Homo sapiens: one gene and its partners. The protein of the gene in region 4 purifies or fractionates together with the protein of the main gene of each other region. This does not show direct contact. Each region holds a gene or a part of one and is shown on either strand. Other genes may lie near its edges.

Region 1 (4,524 bases), on a different chromosome or scaffold from region 4:
TAAGTGGAAATGCAAATACCATCATATCTTCGTTTGCATCAGTTAACAATGTAAACACGTGCTACCCAAGAGCGCAGTGACTCTTCTTGGGCCTCCTTCAGGTCTCCCAAAGGAGAGCTGCAGCTCTAAATGGCCTCCAAGGATGTGCAGAGCCATCAAGGGCCAGGAGAGCCTAAAGAAAGCAGAATACAAATCATGCTGCAACTTTATACACTTTTTCATTCCAACTTCACTCAATGGGAAAAGGGAGGCTCACATTATGGGGTGCCTGCATGATCTGTAAACCATTCACTGTTGCCAATACCTTCAGCTCGACACCCTGTTCTTTTAAAGTTAATTAAAATTCCAATAGGATACCCATCAAGCATGCATTTCACATTCATCAAATCTGAAGATCTCCCAAGCAAGGCAAATCTGATAAAAATTGACCTTGGCCTCTTCAAGTGGTGCTATCAAGAGCATTTCCCCCAGCAAATGCTTGCTGATGTGTGTGTTTTTTTTTAATGCACCTCAAAAAAGATCATGTTAACTGTAAAAGATAGAGATTAAATACAGATCAAACGGAAATGCACACTAGAAACAATTGCAAAACTGAGCCCCGAATCTGTCATGCTCCAGCAAGCAGGCAGGCTCTCAAAAGCCAGGAGGAAGAAACAATTGGATAGAATTCTGCTCAGCTCCATCACAGCAAGCAGCCTGATTCTAGGCAGCTGTAGACAAGCTATTGTGTCCTACGGATGACGGAGGTGGGCTCGTTTTCAGGATAGCCTGCCAACAGGCTGGATCAGCAACTGAGCAGGATTATTCTCCCCTGCTGTTTTTTTAAAGCAGATTATGGCTTAGACGTTTTTTCCCTTTTAATGAAGTTTGTAAGAATCATGAACACTGCCTCTGATAATAAAGATAAACTTGGAGCAAATTTAAAAAGGAAACCAACAGACTCAAGCAACTACTCCGCATAGATGCCCAGTAATGCTTGACGATCCAGTTTCCACAACATGGACTGACTGAATCTAGAGGCAAAGCATGATATCAGACTCACAACACACACACACCCCCCCATGCACATCCACATCCACACACGTACACGCACACACCCTTAACTTAGAATACTAAATACCACAAATCCACCAGCAGCAAAGCAGGCACTCTGAGGTGTGCCTCACGCGTGATAAGAGACTTGAAGATTTTCGTATTAGGAACAGGCACTGAAACGACAGCCAATCACGTGTGCCAGGCACTGCACATACGTTATCCTATTTATCTAAGAAGCAGATAGCATCCCTAATTCACTGATAACAAGTCTCAGGAAAGCTAGCCCATTTGCCCCGGGGCAGATGGTGAGGAAGTGTGGAAGCCAAGATTAAAACCACCTTCAGTGGGATTCCCACCACCCCTTCCCCTCCTTCCACGTGTCCTGGGGGAGGTGGCAGGCCACCGCCTCAGGAGAAAAGGCAGTCCTGTGTGTGGGCTTCAGACACCAGCCTGGGAGGCAACACTGTCCCCAGGGGTGTAACAAGAAACATGGGGTTGGGGCTGGGTCACCGTTTGCTCACCGACTTGGAGACTAAGTACAAGGGGAAGAAACCCTGCTGTCTCCACTACTGGGTGTTGTCATGGGACTGTGACACCTGAAGCCACGGCCTCTATTTGAGACCTACTGGGTAGGGATGAGAATGAAGCCAACAGAGGAGCAGAGCAGAAGGGCAGACCAAGTATGGATCAGTGAGGAGAGCACAGAGCTGCTGGGTTAGCCAGCTAGGCCACTCAGACTAATGTCCTGTTCATGTCACTTACATATTAATAGAGCTGCCTGTCACCTGCATCCAAAGCCACAACAGATTTGATGCTGTTTCCTGTGGGCCACACTGCTCTGTGCACTCTGTGGGTTTACAAGACAGCAGCCTTGCATAGAAGAGCATCTGCAGCCGTGAGGCACGGTGAATGGAAGGGGTGGCCACTGCTTATGTTTAGAATCGTGCTACCAACGAGCTGAGCCTGTGGTAGAGTAAGAGGACTCTTCTAACCAAGGCCAAAGTTAATCTTCCAAAAAACACCCTCATTAACTGTGTGCCGCTCAGCAAGGAAATTCTGGAGCCTTAATTTCCGTACCTGTGTAACTAGCAACCTCACCAAGTTGCAGTAAGGACCAGATGAGCCACACTTAAAACACCGCTCAACCCTTAGCCCTCAGCAGAGGCTTCATTCACACCTGGTCCCACTGGGTGCTCAATAAATAATAATTTAGATTATTCACTCGCTGGCTGCAAACTGCTGTTTCCACACTCAGGGGCCTTCTGAACAGGACTTTGCTGTAACTCAGCTGTCATATCAACCACTCGTTTGGTCTCTTGTGAGCTGTCTGGTTTTTGGTGAGGCCCCCAAGTGCCAGCCTTTTCCTCTGGAGTCCTTATTATATCCAAGACCGAACCACGACAACATCCCAACCATCCAGCCAAACTGGACAGAAGGGCGGAGGAACAGAATCCTAACTCAATCACTTCCTAGCTCTCTGACTTGCCCAAATATCAATCTCTCTGGGCCTCAAAATAATAATTATACCAGCCACTTGGCAGGATTATTGTGAACTTTCCATAAGGTGATATATGTCAAAGTGCCCAGCATGCAGCAGGCACTCAGTAAATGTTCAACAGAAAATCTCGGGTATATAAGCAGTTCAACTGTCGAGACCCAAAGAACATGGTAACTAGCTTCCAGATACCATAGACACCCTCTATCCTGGCCTCCACTAGCTGACCAGCTGGACTAACCAACATTCCACGTCCTCTGTAACACAGCCAAAGTCACCCACACCCACCAGAGACTACAGCCTGGCAAGGCTGGGCCAGCCACTCCTGCCTGGGGAAGCCTGTGCTTATCAGGGATCTGTTGTCCTTATTCCCAACTATGCTAATGCAAGTTGTACTCATAATGCTAAATATGCACCATAATTCAATAGTCTGTAACAGGGAAAGAAGTTTGAGTGCAAAAAAAAAAAAAAAAAAATTGTCCCTTGGGAAATCAAGATGACCATGTATGAAAGACTCAAACACTAACAAAATGGTCAAATCAGGTGTAAATGAGAACATCAAACATTAGTGGAGAGGTCCTATTTAAAATCTAAATGACGCTCTATTCAGAATCCTTTGAAAATCTTAGTCTTCACTCTATTTGAAAGAAACAAATAGAAAATCATAAAAGGTGACTGTGTTCAGCTAAAAAGACAATCTGGAACTCAAAGAAAGGTCCTCAGCTCTGTACTCAAAAAATGGTGGAAGAATCATACACGTGTATGCTTATAAAATAAAATATTTAACAAATATAATTTTATGATTCTCCAACTTAAATTATTTTCTCTATTAAGTCCCAGTCACATTGTCAAAGAGACACAGAAGAGATTTTCAAACGGATCCAATGTGAACATATACCACTGTACCTCAAGATACAAAATACAGATAAACTTATTAGGCTGTAATGCCGACTTTTATATCATCAAAGGCACTGCCTAAGCTTTCTAGAATTCTTTAATTTGTGACAATGTCCTTCCTTGTAACCCTCACAGAATTCTGGAGTGACACCGGTCAGTGCCCACGGGTACCTTCTGAGAGCTGGGCAGACAGCTTGCAACCACTCACTACCTCTACTGTCAGCTCCATCCAGAAAGCCCAAGCCAGTCTTGTTTACCTATAATAGTGCCTAGCCGAGTCTACATGAACTGCAGAAGATGTTCTGTATAGGCTCAAATATAAGTCAAGGATTTAAAAAATTTTCAAAACAAAATTGGAATTGTCTGATATTCAAGTCCTTATTAAATCACTTACATTAAAAAGCATGTTTTGAATTACTCAATGTGGAACCACAAAACTCTTTTAGCAAGACTCCCACTGCACTGAAACAATTTGATTGATGCTAGCTTGGGATGTTAAAGGGATTTTCTTGCAAAATAGTGAAAACAAAACAATAAACAAACAAGTTAGCCTGAGAAATTTAGCATACATTAGCAACTGCAAGGGTTAGACAGTACCATTAAAACAGGACTGTTTAAAGGTCACTTCAAGAAGTAACACATATGAACACACTTTAAGAAGCAACACACATATAGTATTTGCCAACAGGCAAATAAAAAGACCAACTCCTGATCTTAGGCTATGGGTACTCGTCACTGGGTATATTATTTCCAGGGGCAGCATCGTTAACTGACTCCACAAAAGCGCTTTATCTCAAATGGCTCAGGTGAGAGCAGAGCTGAGAGGTTCTGCTAACCACGTCAGGGGACTCCAAGTACTCTGGTGATCACCAAAACCGATGAAAAACAACAGGTAAAGAGTTCAGGAAAACACTGTTTTGTGTCCTGCCAGTAAAACCAAACAGAAATTAAAACTTTTTTTTAAATAAAGCTGTCAAAATATTGAACCGTAACAAAATTAATAAAGTAAACAAGCTATGCCAATACTTACCTATATACCTAAAAAGTATACATACCCTAATTGGCCCAAAAGAAGATGTAAGGAGCTTCTAATTGGA
Region 2 (4,524 bases), on a different chromosome or scaffold from region 4:
TGACTGCCCTCCTCCACTTTCCACCCCAAGCCCTTACTCCACTACTCCAGAAATAGCCTGCACTTCATTCCTTGTCTCAAGAACACTCGCCTCCCTTCCTCCAAATAGACTAGGTAAGTTATCAACTTAGGAAAACAACTGACATATTCTGACAAATATTTATTCTACTATACTCCCAATTTAACCTTCCCAAAAAAATCTCATTCCTTCTCAAAAATTCCTGCTTAGCTGAATACCTCATATTGTGGGCATTCAATACAAAAGTATATATGCCAAATGCTTGATAAGATTTAATTTTCTCTCAAGAGTGAGAGGTAAATGTGGTATGTAAGTCCCATTCCTTTCTCCTACCCAGCAAAACACCCATGTCTATCAGATACTCAAATGTGATGAAAATTAAGAATAATGTACAAACTTGTTTTAAACTAAGAGCAGTGTCTTTCCATTGCTCTTTTAGGACCTTCATTGCTCACAAGGACTTAATTTCCTAAGTCCTTCTCCCTTCCCCCACCATGCTTCCCCCAATACCCCCATTCAGCAATGCTGGTTCCCTCTCCAGTTAGGGCAATGGAAATAGATTGGTTGTGTTGTACAGGGATTCTCAGGGGGCAAGCCAAAGAACTGAAGTTCGTTTTCATGGAGTAAACCAGCTCAACCAGGACTCCGTGCCTAGGTCCTTGCCGTGAAGGCCCAGCCACAACAAAACTGCCAGGCAGGCAGCTCATTTTCTCTTAGGAAGGCAGCAGATTCCCCATGTCATGTCTGCACTAGAATACTGCAGCCAGCGGGGAGAAGAGGCGGGTCACTTCAATTACATCAGAAAAGATCCAATAGGAGTGTCAAGGACCTCTCCCATTATGGCCCGACTTTAAAGTCCTTACTATTGAGCAGCCAATGATGCCCAGGACTTTGTCACCAAACTTTCACAACTGTCAACATGGCCTTAGGACCGGCCAAACACCCACCTACTCTGTGGCCTTGAACCCAATCAGGCCTCTCAGTGATCTTTCCAGGGCCCCACCCCACCTCGCCACAGAACTCCAGGAGCCATGAAACACAGAAGTCTCTATCTTTCCAAAGCTCAGAGAGAATGGGGGCAGCTACAGTCCAGGGTGAGACCAAGTAGCTGAGCTTTCTGCCTGATGTGCAAAGAGAAAACTTGAGTAGCAGGGACACGGGGCCAATTGGCTTCTTATATGTGCCACTGCTAGAAAAAACTAAGTAAAGGGACTACAGGGGCTGGGGAGGAGGCAAGCAGCAACCACTAAGTGCAGGGTTAGGAAGGAGCACGGCTTCAGAGAAAACCTTTCTGATCCGAACTCTTCCGCTTGTGCTGTTCCCAGGTTCCACTTTCTCATACCTAGATGAGAGACAATTAGAACTTCTGGTTCAAGTGCTGGGGTCCTTTGAGATCTCTGTAAATACAGTTCACTCAGTCAACATTTATTGAATAGTCACTGTTTACTGAGTCTAGAGGAGGGAGGTAGAATCAGTTCAGTACAAGAGTTTAGTCTGAGGTTTGATTGGAAGCCCATCCTACAATAGTGACTGCTCCTGAAACCCACCTACCAAGCCGCCAGACCCTGCTTGCTGCACAGCAGAACATTGAGAAACCATGTTTGTTGCACTATAGAGAAACCACATCTCCTTCCACCCTCCCCCTGGACTGTGTCCTTTGATACATGGAGACAGGTAACAGCTACTGGGATTATCTGGGCTCCTTCACTGGGGCCATGGGAAATTCACAAAGTTCATAGACCCTCTCACACCTCAGAGAAAGCCAACAGCTAAAGAACAGATGTCCACGAGAGAGACATCTAGAAGGCTGAACGAGCAGTGATGGGGGGTCAGAACAGGAAGACCTAGGGCTGCTGGCAGGGTGGGTATTTGGAAGGAGGCGGTGAAGACCCAAGACTAGGATGACAGGAAATGGGTTCGGCATGTTGTGGCCTCTCCGCCTGTCTACTGAGGAAGTTCAAGGGTTTCTCCTCAGGACAGCGGTGGGAGAGGGGTGAGGAAAGACCTAAGGAAGTAAGGACCTCAGAAGACCCCCTCAAATTCAGAACAAAGGATTTCCGGTCCAAATATGTTCTGTATGTTTTCTCCTCTTGAGCTACAACTCAGCAACCACACCAGGGCCCCCAGACAAACCACACATGGCTCACTTAAGGTAGAAACCAAAACCTGCTTTATAAGGCTGCGTGGCCACCACTGGCTTCTCTGCTGAGATATGAGGTGCCAGCCAGGCAGACAGGTGACAGAGGGTGACCCTTCCTCACCTTCTCCCCATCACTACCATCCCTCCGGCCCTACAAATACCCATCTCTATAATGCAACCACTTCAAAAAATACTCTGAGGAGGGACAGGGTGAAAGGGGTAGGGGGTCAGACTGGTCTGAACAGCAGGCTGGTTCCCGTGAGGTAGCTGATGCCCATGCTCCTGGGCAGAGGCTTTTGGAGAGAGGCCAGTTATGGGCTCACAGCCAGGAGGGAGTCACTGATTGACTGGAAAGTGGAGGAAGCAGAAAGTCTTGAAGTCTGCCCAGAGCACTTGATCACAGGTAACGTCTGGGTAGAAAGGCTGGGCTCTTTGCTGGTGTCCTCACTGTCCTTTGAGGAACTGGGTTTCTGGGGATAAGGGGAAAGGCCAGCTTGAGTCTTCTTGGATTTGGGCGTGGTCCCGTCTTCAGAGAGTAGTAGGCTAACCTCACAGGAGCTTTGTTTTCTGGAGGGAATAGGTGGTGAAAGAAATGACTGAGACACTGTTTAACTGAGACTTTACCTTAGGATTTGCCTTCAGTCTGGAGCAGGCATTCACGACATTACAGTGTTGTAGGCCAAAATTACATGGAAATGTAATAACCATAAAAAAAATTCTATTTACTTGAAGGCTTGAGACCTGCAGTGCAAGAGTGAATGGGGGTGCGGGTAGAGGGCTAACAATTTCCCACAGCTAGTGGGTATGGCTGACAGTGGCTGCTTCAGGAAGCACTTCTGTCCTCCAGCTCAGCTTCCCTGGGCATACCAAGATCTACCAGAAAAAGGATGCTATGGCTGCATGTCCTGACGCTCCCACCAACCCCCAGCTGGAGAATGCTGATCTCACTGCCACAGTCTGGGAAGAGGGGAAGGAAGAAAACTCTACAAACTCACAGCCAGCAGCCCCTCCCTTGCCCAGGCAGCACTCACCCCAGCTTGCTAGTCTCTGATTTGCTGAAGGCATTGAGTATCACGTCATCCTTTGAGATAGTCAGAAGTGATGTCGGGAGAGACCACTAAGAGCAAAGGAAGCAATGAGACCAAAAGGCTTGGCGGAGGCAAGGCAGGAGTGTTTGGGGTCTTGGTACCCTCCAGCTCTACCTCTAAATGGATCATGGGGTTCTCCCCTTCCCTACCCCTCAGGCATGGGCCCAGGTGGGTAAAAGTCTCAGTTCTCTTCTGAATCAAACAAGAAGTTGAGGCCTACAAAGCACTTTTTGATCCTTGAAAGAAAGGTACCCAGGGAATCCTGGAGGCAACTATTCCCTTGAAAGGAAAGAATGGTGAGACAGAAGCAGAGCCTAGCGGAGAAGTGAGAGAGGCCTATACATACCAACCCAACTCCTGCTGCACTCATAAGGCAGAGGAGGGAGGGGCCTGAGAAGGAGCTGTCCTCCACACTGGCAGCACTCACCACTGGAGCAGAATCAGAGACAACTCCCATGTGGAACCCTTTGTAGCACCAACTCCGGAGCAGATCTACTCCTAGGACAAGATTAGCAGGAGTTGGGGTTTAAGAAGGTAGAATCAATTGGCCAATTCTTTCCAGAGAGGCCCATTTCTTGGTATACTGGGATTTAATCTCTCACTAAACTTGGCTTTCTGAGGGCAGGGAGGGCACATCACCTTTAAGCTTGTTGCCATGGTATTTCTGTTCCCATTGGGTGGTGAGAATGTTGAAATATCGTGGCTGCTCAAAAAAGCGGAGATAGCGAGAGGAGATATGAGAAGGAAAAATTCGTTCAAACTGACCACGGCGAGAAAACTCATCTTCCATCTCAACCAGAATCCGAACATCATCTGGTGTCAGGACATCCAGCACAGATGCATAGAAGTCCTGTGGTCCAAGGAACAGGGAGAAAAAGGGTGTGAGAGAGTGTAAGCCAGGGGCAGAGACTCAAGAAGCTGGGGAACAGGGAGCACACCCCTGGGGTCCTACAGCTCCGGGACTCTCATGGAACTACTGAGGGCAGCCTAGTGGGCCAGCTCTGAAAGACATCTGTTCCTAAGTCTACTGAACTTAGCTAGTGGGGGAAGGCACTCTTGTTTGGGGTCAGGGGAGCCACTGGGGCTGAGAGGTTAAGTAGTTTGTTGGGTAAAGTCAAGATGAGGATCCAGCAATTCAGATTTGGCACCAGTCTTGTATCTGCCATGCTTAAATCCAGCTTCCTTATCTGCTCTGAGAAAGTCAGCTTCCTGGGGTCTCTCACTGTGCCTCTCAGAGAAAGAAACCCAAAGGGTAAAAGTCTATAGTTTGGACAAGAG
Region 3 (3,807 bases), on a different chromosome or scaffold from region 4:
CCTCAGCACCATTTATCAAGTAACTAACTTAGAAGAGAAGAAATTTATAAAACAAAGCAAAATACTTTAAGCTTGTTCACTGTCCATCATTCTCAGAATAGCTACTACCTTCTCAACCTTTAAACTGCCACCCTTCAAACAAACAGCCCTCCCCTTTCTAGATACAGAGTTTTGGAAGTGTCAGAAAGGAGTCCTACATAAAACAAAGGATGTTTTAAAAACTACTAGCTTTCCTATGAAAAAAAATTACTTGAGAGTTAAATGACTCACTTTAGAGTTAAATAACTCATTTTAAACTACTCTTTCTGAGCTAACGAAGTCACATTAATGCAGTTTTTCATAAGTTTGTCAGCTTTATTAACTAAAGTCAAAATAAGTGAATAATTATTCCAGTAGGCCTATAAAGCATAATACAAATAATAATTATGCTATCAAATCATAGAGCAGCATTTACATATAGCTCACATGTGCAAGGCTGGGAGATATCTCCACTTAGGTAAGGATAGAAGTCAAGCTACTATAATTTCCAGAATCATCTACTGTGTAATCTATACACTTAATCTCTCTTGAACATCAGCAAATGACATCATATGGCAAGGCACTCATCAAAGAATTTAACCACCTGTTGTCTTCAGTACACTGAGGGGGTCTGATTAGGATAGTCTATAACAGGAGTTGCCAAAATTTGGCTTGGCTAGTTGCCTGTTTTGTGAATAAAGTTTTATTGGAACAGAGCCACATCAATTTGTTTATGTATTGTCTATGTGGGCTTTTGCACTACAATGGCATTGTTGAATAGTTCTGACAAAAACTGTATGGAAAGTAAACTGAAAATATTTTCTTTCTGGCCTTTTAAGAAAAGGTTTGCTGACCCCTGCTCTACGGCATTATTCTTCGAGTATTAGAAAGCAAACAGATCATCATAACTTGTTAAAATGCAGATCTCATTCAAAAGGTCTAGGAGTATGACCTGAGATTCTGTATTTCTGAGAAGCTCCAGATGATGCCAATACAGCTGGTCTGCACACCCCACTTTGAGTAGCAAAGGGCTCAAGGCAATGCAATAATCTACTGTGATAGAGCATTGGTTCTCAGCCTGGGTTGATCCTGCCCCACAGAGGACATTTAGCAATTTCTGGAGACATTTTGGGTTGTTACAGCTAGGAGGAGATACTATTGACACCTAGTAGATAAGTACTAGGAATGATGCGAAACATCCTACATCACAGGACAGCACCCCCACAACAAATAACAGCTCAGCTCCCAAATGTCAACAGTGCAGCTGTCAAGAAACCCTACATTAGAATAGTTATTAACTTTGAATGCACATCAGAATCGACTGGGAAGCTATGAAAAATAGCAACACTACTTCCACTCTGGCCATGAAAATCTGATACCAGACTTCCCCTTCTGCTGTGAAAACCCATAAATAAATAATAGAAAACAAAATTAGTCAAAATATGTGAAATAACTTAGGGATCTAAAACAAAGCTCAGGAAGGGAAAATAACACAGACCTAAGAAAGGCCACAATTTAAGATTTACTGCAGACTAGGCCAAAAAAGCCTGAACAGAACTTATAAAATGATCAGGTTTAGTCACCAGTAAGTTAACTGTCTGCCAGAACTAACCTCAAAACTCTTTAAAGGAATGCAATAAAATCTGGAGTCTAAAGACCACAGCATCCACAATGTTCAGTATACAATAAAACTACTACAAATGAGATGCAGGAAATGTGACCCATAACCAGGAGAAAAAATTAACAGAGATTCAGGGCTGATCCAGATGGTACAATTATCAAACAAGGACTATAAAACATCTACATAAATATGTTCAAGGAATTAAAGTTGAACATAATTAATGAACAGATATGGGGGAGGTGGAATCTCAACATACAAAGAAATATACTTGTGGAACTGAAAAATACAGGGTATAACATGAAAAATTCATTGGCTAGGTTTAACAGCTGATTTGACAATCAACTAGAGGTCAGGCAAAAACAAAACAAAACAAAACAAAACAAAACAAAAAAAACACCACCACCCAACCTGAGGTACAGCAACATAAAAGACTGATTTAAAAAAATAGTTATTTAGCTGCCTATGAAAAAGGTAAAGTATTCTAACATGCATGTATTTGGAACTCAGAGAAATAAGAGAGATTAAGGCATGAAACAAATTGATGAAATCATACAAAACCTTTCCAATTTGAAGACAAATATCAACCCACAGATAAAAGCAGCTCTACGAACCCAAAGCACAATAAACAAAAGACAGCCATCCTTACAAAACCAAAAATAACAAGCAAATCTTGAAAGCCACAGAAAGAAATACATTATAAATGGGCCAATAAGAATAACTGCTAACTTCTTAGCAGAAAAAAAAACAGACCTATGAAGATGGAAACATCCTTTTTAAAGTTCTGAAAGAATAGATTCCATATTCAATGAAGCTTTCAAAATCAAAGTGAGGGGCATCCAGTTATAGACAAGAAAGAGTAAGCATCCCACCTTATTCTGGTAATTAAAGAGTGGACAAAAAGCACCTATCAAAACACTGAAAATTCTAAAAATGACCCTCCCTTGAGTCTCCACCCGCCATGTACTTTAGTACCTCCTATTACCCCAGCCTGGGCCATAAAAGAGCCTGCGTTCTGGAAACAGCAATATGCACAGACTGGAAAAAAAAAAAAACAAACATGAAAAACATGCTCTATGTAACCAATAGCCCTGGGGGAGGACAGGTCTACAGGACAGAATCTTTTTATACCTGCTGAACCCTAGGTGAACACCATGAAAGAAGCTGTACCTTACTTCTCTCCAGGTGCTGTGGAAACGGGGCGGCGGGGTGGGGGGGATGGTGGGGGCGGTGGGGAGGTGGCAAGGGTGGGGTGAAGAGGGAGGGTACAGTCCTGTTGAGTATCATCACCCTACACTAACCAGGGAGCACACCTACCCTTCCCCCATCAAGCACTGTGGAGACAGGTAGAGCCCTGTTGACCGTCCTCACACTAACAAGGTGATACCCTATCCCACTGGGTGTTAGGGAAATTGTGAGATAGAGCTCTGACAACCTTTCCCAGCCTGTACTACTGAGGTGGTCCCCCTTCCTTCCCACCAGGAGACTACCAAAACTGTAAGGCAGAGCCATATAGCCTGTTCCTCCCTGCACTAACACAAGCAGATGTGGTACCTGTCTTCCTCCCCACCAGACACTGTAGAGACCGTAGTAGAGAGCTACCAACCTTCTCCACCTTGCACTGAGCAAACATCAGAGCAACAGCAACCCTCCACTCTGGCCTCAGAAACTGGAGAGGCACTTGCCCTTTTGACCGTGCCTGCTGTGCATTAAACAGCAAAGAGTTGGCATCGCACATCTCCCTAACTAGAAAGCTCTGTTCTCAGTAATTGATATAACTACTAGAGTGAAAATCAGCAGGAATATAAAATAAATCAGTAACATCACAAGATAATGGGATCTAGCTGATATTTATAGACTACTTCACCCCCAAACAGGAAAATACATGTTCTTTTCAACTGCAACTGGAACATTCAACCAGGCAGACCGTCATATCCTATCCATAAAACAAACCCTAACAAATTTATATTGTTAGACCATAATATAATTAAACTAGAAATCAATAACTGAAAAAAAAATCTTCAGATACTTGGGAATTAACACATTTCTAAATAAGGTATTAAAAGTCTCAAGGGGAAATATATTTTGAAGTGAACAAAATTGAAATGTATAAATATTTACAGGATGCAGTACAAACAGGGTTTAGCAGGACACTTATAGCATGGAATACT
Region 4 (5,548 bases):
CGTCTCTGGATTGCTGGAAATGGGCCACAACACACTTCTAGCTTGGGGCCCCCATGGTTCCCACAAATTGGGTCACAGCCACCATCCACACGTAGTTCTTAATCATTCTATGATGCCATCTTTGTTCCCTGGCCCCACTCTTGTATTCATTCCAAAATAGCAGGAGCGTCTCTGGGTGCTTTGCCTTGTTCCGCCACTGGAGATGCCAGTGGAGAGCTCATGGCTCCTGCTGTCATGTTGCTTGCAGTGCCTCTTTAATAGGCACTGATTTAGCACCTATGGTGTGCAGGGTTTTGGGCTTTGTGCATAGATTGGAGCAAAGGTGGGGAGTCAGTGCCCAGGTGAGTATGATGACCCTGCCCTCAGGAAACTTGCAGCTCTGGGGAGGGCAGGCAGCCCAGCAGCAGACGGGGAGCCCATGCTAGGCTGGCATGACCCAAGATGAAAGTCTGTGAAGGACAGCAAAGGAGAAAAGAGCGCCCCAGATTCTACCCCATCTCACAACTCTGTGTCCATGTGAGTGTTTCTTCCTGTGTGCAATATCATCCTGGGGAGACCACTGGATCATATATGCTGTCTTTTTGCTCATTTTATTAGTTGTCACCTTAATACACAGACTTTATAATGTTGATTCCAAAAGACTGCATCACATTTCATCTGCTGATGGCCACGATGGAACCAGCCCCCTGGTGCTGGGTGACGCAGGTGTTTTCAGTTGTTTGCTGTGATGAGGAATGAACATCCTGTGTGTAACAGTTCTTCTCCAAACAATGTGGGATTGTTTCCTCGAAGCAGTTTCCCAAAAGTCGAACAACTGGATCCCAGAGTTCTTGCAATGTATCAGCATGAAGATGTTTAAACAGATCAAACATGTTATAACCGCAAGTGGGGTTGTCCCTCGGGGCTCATTTCTTTGGTTGGATTCAGTTTTCGTTGGAGATGACCTCCGTATGGAGGTGGTCAGGAAGGGAATTCTGACCCAAAGAACAAACCCAGCCCAACCCCATGTTCACCCAGAGCCAGGTGGTGGGGGTAGAGCGAGGGCCTGAGAGGGATGCTGGGTCTGGCTCATCCCCACCCCACCGTTTCAGCCAGCACCGTCTTCCCAGAGGACCTGACATCCTAGCCCAGACTCTGGTGTAGGTGGGGACACAGGAAGTTGATTGGAAAAGTGGACTAACTTAGAGATTTCCAAGGCAAAAATCCAGAGAGCCCTGGGACACCTGTGGTTAATTCATTCAGCATTTGTCAAGTACCTATTAGGCACCACACATGTTGATCAAAACAGATATGATCCCACCCATATGGATTAACTGACTCCAAGGGGAGGCCACCGCGGGCCGCATAACCCAAAGGTAAAATTACAGTGATACGGAACCACAGCCAGGAGGGACTCCGAGAGCCCATAGCAGGGCGGTTTGGCTTGGTCCCAGAGGTCAGAGAAGGCTTGCAGAGGAGACCATGCTACTGCTTTGGGAGCTGCGCTATTGAAGGAGGAGATAAAGGTGGGAGGTGGGGGGAATGAAGGGAAATGATACTGGTTGGAGGGAAAGGAGGCTTTACAGAGCCTTCAGGCCACAGATGAGAATTTGGGCCCCTTCTCCTAAGGACCAGGGGAAGCTATTAAAGGGCTTTGAGCTGGGAAGAGTGACCAGACCAGATTTGTAATTCAGAGGTCAGCTTTGCTGTCATTACCTGGTGGAGAGTGGCTGGTAGAGGAACCAGAGGGAAATGGGGAACCCACTTAGGGTTGAGCGGCCAGTCAACAGGTGTCCTGAGAACTCACTGGGAGCCAGCTTCGTTCTCAGCACTTAGAGGGCTGCAAAGAGGCAGGCTGGATCCCTGGACCACACGTGCCCTCTGTCACAAGAGAGGCTTGTGGGGCATTGTGGCCAGGACCCAAGGTCAATCAGCTGGCATCCTTACCTCCTCACCACAGCACAGCCAGGAACACAAAGGCCCAAGAATGACATCTGAACAGCCAATGCCTGGCTCAGATTTGGCCTTGCTCAGCTAAAGCCTCAGCACTTTACCACTTAACCTTTGCTTTACATACACTTCTAACTCAGCCTACTACGGAGCTGAAATAGTCCGTTAGAAAGGGCAGGACTGTGGTTGGTGGAAATGTGACCCAGCAAGGCAGGGGAAAAGGGCCTGAAATCAACATCAGAACACAAAAGGCATGTTTGTTCAGGGCCATTTAGAAAAGTGCAGCTCAGGGTGGGGTGGGAGCAGGAGCTGGTATGGCGAGAACAGTGAGGAGCTGGCAGGGCAAAAGCAAGGACTGGGGCAGCAGAGTAGGAGGGATCAGGTGAATGCAGGAACAGGGCCTCAGGTAGAAAGGTCAGGGCGGTCTCCAGAGACCAAACTCACAGCTCAGAGCCACCAAACGTTAATATGGATGACGTCTCAAGGATCACAGCATCCAGGATAGACAAGCAGGTCTGATGGGTGGGCAGGGGCTGCTTCTACAGGAGACTGCTGAAACTTCCAGACCCAGAGGTGAGGGAGGCCGGCCTGCGGAGGGCCGTAGGATTCAGTTTGGAGGCCTCCTGGTGCTAAGGCTGCCATGAGCAGGGTGGATCAGGCGGGACAGGAGGGAACCGCCCTCTTTTCCCCTTCTTCCCCTCCCTTCTCCCCTCCATCTTTTCCTCCCTCCTCCTTTCCCTCCCTTCCCCACATTGACCTTCCATGAGCCTTCAGGGACCAAGTGTCTGTTTAGCCTTCTCTCCATAAAGGGACCCCCCAGGGTTTTAGCTGGGAGGCCAGAACATCTGGTGCCTGGAAAAGAGGAAAGGGCAGAGTCTTGGATGGGGGGTGACTTGCACAGGGTACTCTTTGACCAATCAGTCCCCCTTGATCCTTGGTAGTGACCTCCTACTCACACAAATTCCATTCTGCTAACCCTCACCAGCCCTCTGAGGTGGGTGGGCAGGGATTGGTGGCTTCATCCTGTATCTGGGAAGCTGAAGCATAAGGCACCTTTATGTCTAAGCCTTAGTGTTCCTCATCTGTAAAATGGGAAAAATGGAACAAACCCTCTCCCAAGGTTGTTGCAATGAGGATTAAGAGAGATGCATGGCATAAATGTTGGGGCCAAGATGGGGCAGCTTCAACGTGAAAGAGTCAGGATTTATTTCAGGCCTCCTGCTTCCAAGCCTGATATGGTGATCATTCTTCCATCCTGCCTTACTTATGAGAGGCACCTAAAAAGTCAGACAAAGCATCCCCCTTAACCCACCCCAGTAGAGCCAGGGATCAGGCATAGGCTCTCTGACCCCCAGCCCAGTATTCTTTCTAGCATTGCCCAATTAAAGCCCAGTGCCCTCAGCTGTACAGGAAGAATGCTGCTGTCCTTGCCCCACCCAGACCTATTGTCCAAGGAAGTGGGAATATCAGGTGATGTTGAGGGTGTAGAAGTGAACTGAGAAGCCTCTAACCCAGGTCTAAGCCAGACCCTGCAGGCCCTGCTCCAGCCTGCAGTTCGAGAGGAGCAGGTGGAGGCAGAGGCTGTCCTGTGACAGACATCTAGCAGGCTCATGCTGAGGACTCAGTGTATGCAGGATGAACTCGCCAGCTCTGCCCTCCAGGAGCAAGGGGAGGAAGGGGTCTTGATCACCTGCTGGGTACAGTATAGGGTCATCAATCAGGGTGCTGGATACAGGCCCCATCCACCTTTGGAGCAGCCAGGGGGTGGGAAGTGGGTGTTTCTGAGGGAGGGCTGGCCCTGTCTGCTGCACACACTACTGTACATCCAGGCAGATGGTGACATCAGCCACATGCAAGGGCTGGGAGGGCTTCCTGGAAGAATGAGCTTAACTGAGCACTCTTCCAGCAAGCATGGTTTGAGAGTCTGCCACGTGCTCCCTCTGAGCACTGGGTTTGGCACTGGGGAGACACAGTGCCCACGCAGACTACGCATGGAGCTGGAGGCCTTGCCTGCAGGCACAGGAACCTGCTGCTAGTGGAGAGCCTTGAGGGTTCCAAGTGGGGCGGGAGGGATGATGGCATTTCTGGCAGTTTTGCCTGATAGTGGCAGGTGGAGTGGGATGGTGCAGGCATAGGGAGACTGAGACAGACAGGCCAGTGGGGACATCTGGGAGGGCAGAGGCAGGAGCTGGACTAGGGCTTGGCAGTGAGGAAGCGGAGCCATGTGTGAGGAGACACAGATGTGTGCAGGGGGGCTGGGCACCATGGCTCACGCCTGCAATCCCAGCACTTTGAGAAGCCGAGGCGAGCAGATCACCTGAGGTCAGGAGTTCAAGACTAGCCTGGCCAACATGGTGAAACCCTGTCTCTACTAAAAATACAAAAATTAACCAGGTATGGTGATGCACACCTGCAATCCCAGCTACTCAAGAGGCTGAGGCAGGAGAATCACTTGAACCCAGGTGGCAGAGGCTGCGGTGAGCCAAGATCATGTCATTGCTCTCCAGCCTGGGTGACAGAGCGAAAGGCCGTCTCAAAAAAAAAAAAAAATATATATATATATATATATATATATATGTGCAGAGGTCACTGGCAGAGCAGGGGCATTTCAGGGCACCTCTGGGTCAGCGGTCCTGCAGCTCTCCCATGCCATCTGAGTACCAGGGGCTCCCTTTTGCACCACTGGCCTTCTCGGTGACCATCTGGGCAACCAGTGTGAATTGAACACTTACTTGGTGCTGGCCACTGGGTTTTTGTCCCTGAGCCTGAGATGCCACCCTGCCCTGGCCGGACGGAGGAGGGCTGCTCTGGCTTCTGGGCCAGGCCCTCCTCCCCACTTCCACCCCAGCTGGCCAGCCACACCCTCCCCATGGCCTGGGGAACCACCACCCTTGGGCTGCAGGTCAGACGTGACCCTACAGGGCACCTTGTCCATCCAGCCCCCATTCCCCACCCCTCTGTGCAGTGCCCTCCAGGGGCCTCCAGGTTCTGTTTATGTCATTCCAAAGGGAGAGGAAGCTCATTACCACACAGCAGCCCTTCCAGCTCTGCTCTAAGGGCCCAAACACTGGCCTGCCCTTAGCTGTGGCTCTGGTGCCTCCTGCTTCCATAGGCCCTGCCTTCCTGGGTCCTGAAGGCTCAAGCTCTGGCTGCAGAAGGAGGCAGCCCAGATCAAACCCAGTTTGGATGCAGCCTGGGCCCACAGAAGCCTCTCTGATGAGGTCGGGGGGCTGAGCCTATGGCAGTGCAAACCGAGTGTTCATTCTTAGGGTGTTTGGGAAGCCCCCCTTCATCTCCCACCTGGCACCCTGACTGGGGAACTGGCCCTTTAAAGCCAACCAAGGGCTGGCTTTTGGGGGGAAACATCCTAGATTTCTGCCATCTACTTACAAGCCTGGGCCAGGGAGGGGGGGCCACTCAGCCCCCGACAGGGGCATTGGAAGGGCAGGTGGAGCCAGTGGCATTGATTGCAGTAACCTGATCCCGTGAGGGAGGCGGCCACAGCGGCAGCAGCGCAAGGGCCAGGCCAGCCGGGAGGAAGGTGCCTGCAGCTGAGGGCTGCGCTGGGAAGAGCTGGGGCTGGGACCCGGGTCGGCAGCTGCAGCCTCCTCTCCTGGCC

The links. Proteins that work in one complex are often made in the same cells at the same time.
Region 1: the proteins of MAPK8IP1 (region 4) and SH3RF3 purify together in Homo sapiens (affinity purification with western blotting; one study listed by BioGRID). This does not show direct contact.
Region 2: the proteins of MAPK8IP1 (region 4) and TTLL4 purify together in Homo sapiens (affinity purification with mass spectrometry; 2 studies listed by BioGRID and IntAct, with this or other methods). This does not show direct contact.
Region 3: the proteins of MAPK8IP1 (region 4) and VRK2 purify together in Homo sapiens (affinity purification with western blotting; one study listed by BioGRID and IntAct). This does not show direct contact.

Annotation. Positions count from the first base shown.
Region 1 is NC_000002.12:109,132,205-109,136,728, reverse strand, and holds part of SH3RF3 (E3 ubiquitin-protein ligase SH3RF3), read right to left. Parts: intron 1-4,524. UniProt on the Homo sapiens protein: Has E3 ubiquitin-protein ligase activity.
Region 2 is NC_000002.12:218,752,335-218,756,858, reverse strand, and holds the end of TTLL4 (tubulin monoglutamylase TTLL4), read right to left. Parts: intron 4,097-4,524; coding exon 3,886-4,096; intron 3,745-3,885; coding exon 3,674-3,744; coding exon of another isoform or gene 3,593-3,673; intron 3,276-3,592; coding exon 3,190-3,275; intron 2,726-3,189; coding exon 2,470-2,725; 3' UTR 1,443-2,469; downstream 1-1,442. UniProt on the Homo sapiens protein: Monoglutamylase which modifies both tubulin and non-tubulin proteins, adding a single glutamate on the gamma-carboxyl group of specific glutamate residues of target proteins.
Region 3 is NC_000002.12:58,154,806-58,158,612, reverse strand, and holds part of VRK2 (serine/threonine-protein kinase VRK2), read right to left. Parts: intron 1-3,807. UniProt on the Homo sapiens protein: Serine/threonine kinase that regulates several signal transduction pathways.
Region 4 is NC_000011.10:45,891,156-45,896,703, forward strand, and holds part of MAPK8IP1 (C-Jun-amino-terminal kinase-interacting protein 1), read left to right. Parts: intron 1-5,548. UniProt on the Homo sapiens protein: The JNK-interacting protein (JIP) group of scaffold proteins selectively mediates JNK signaling by aggregating specific components of the MAPK cascade to form a functional JNK signaling module. Required for JNK activation in response to excitotoxic stress.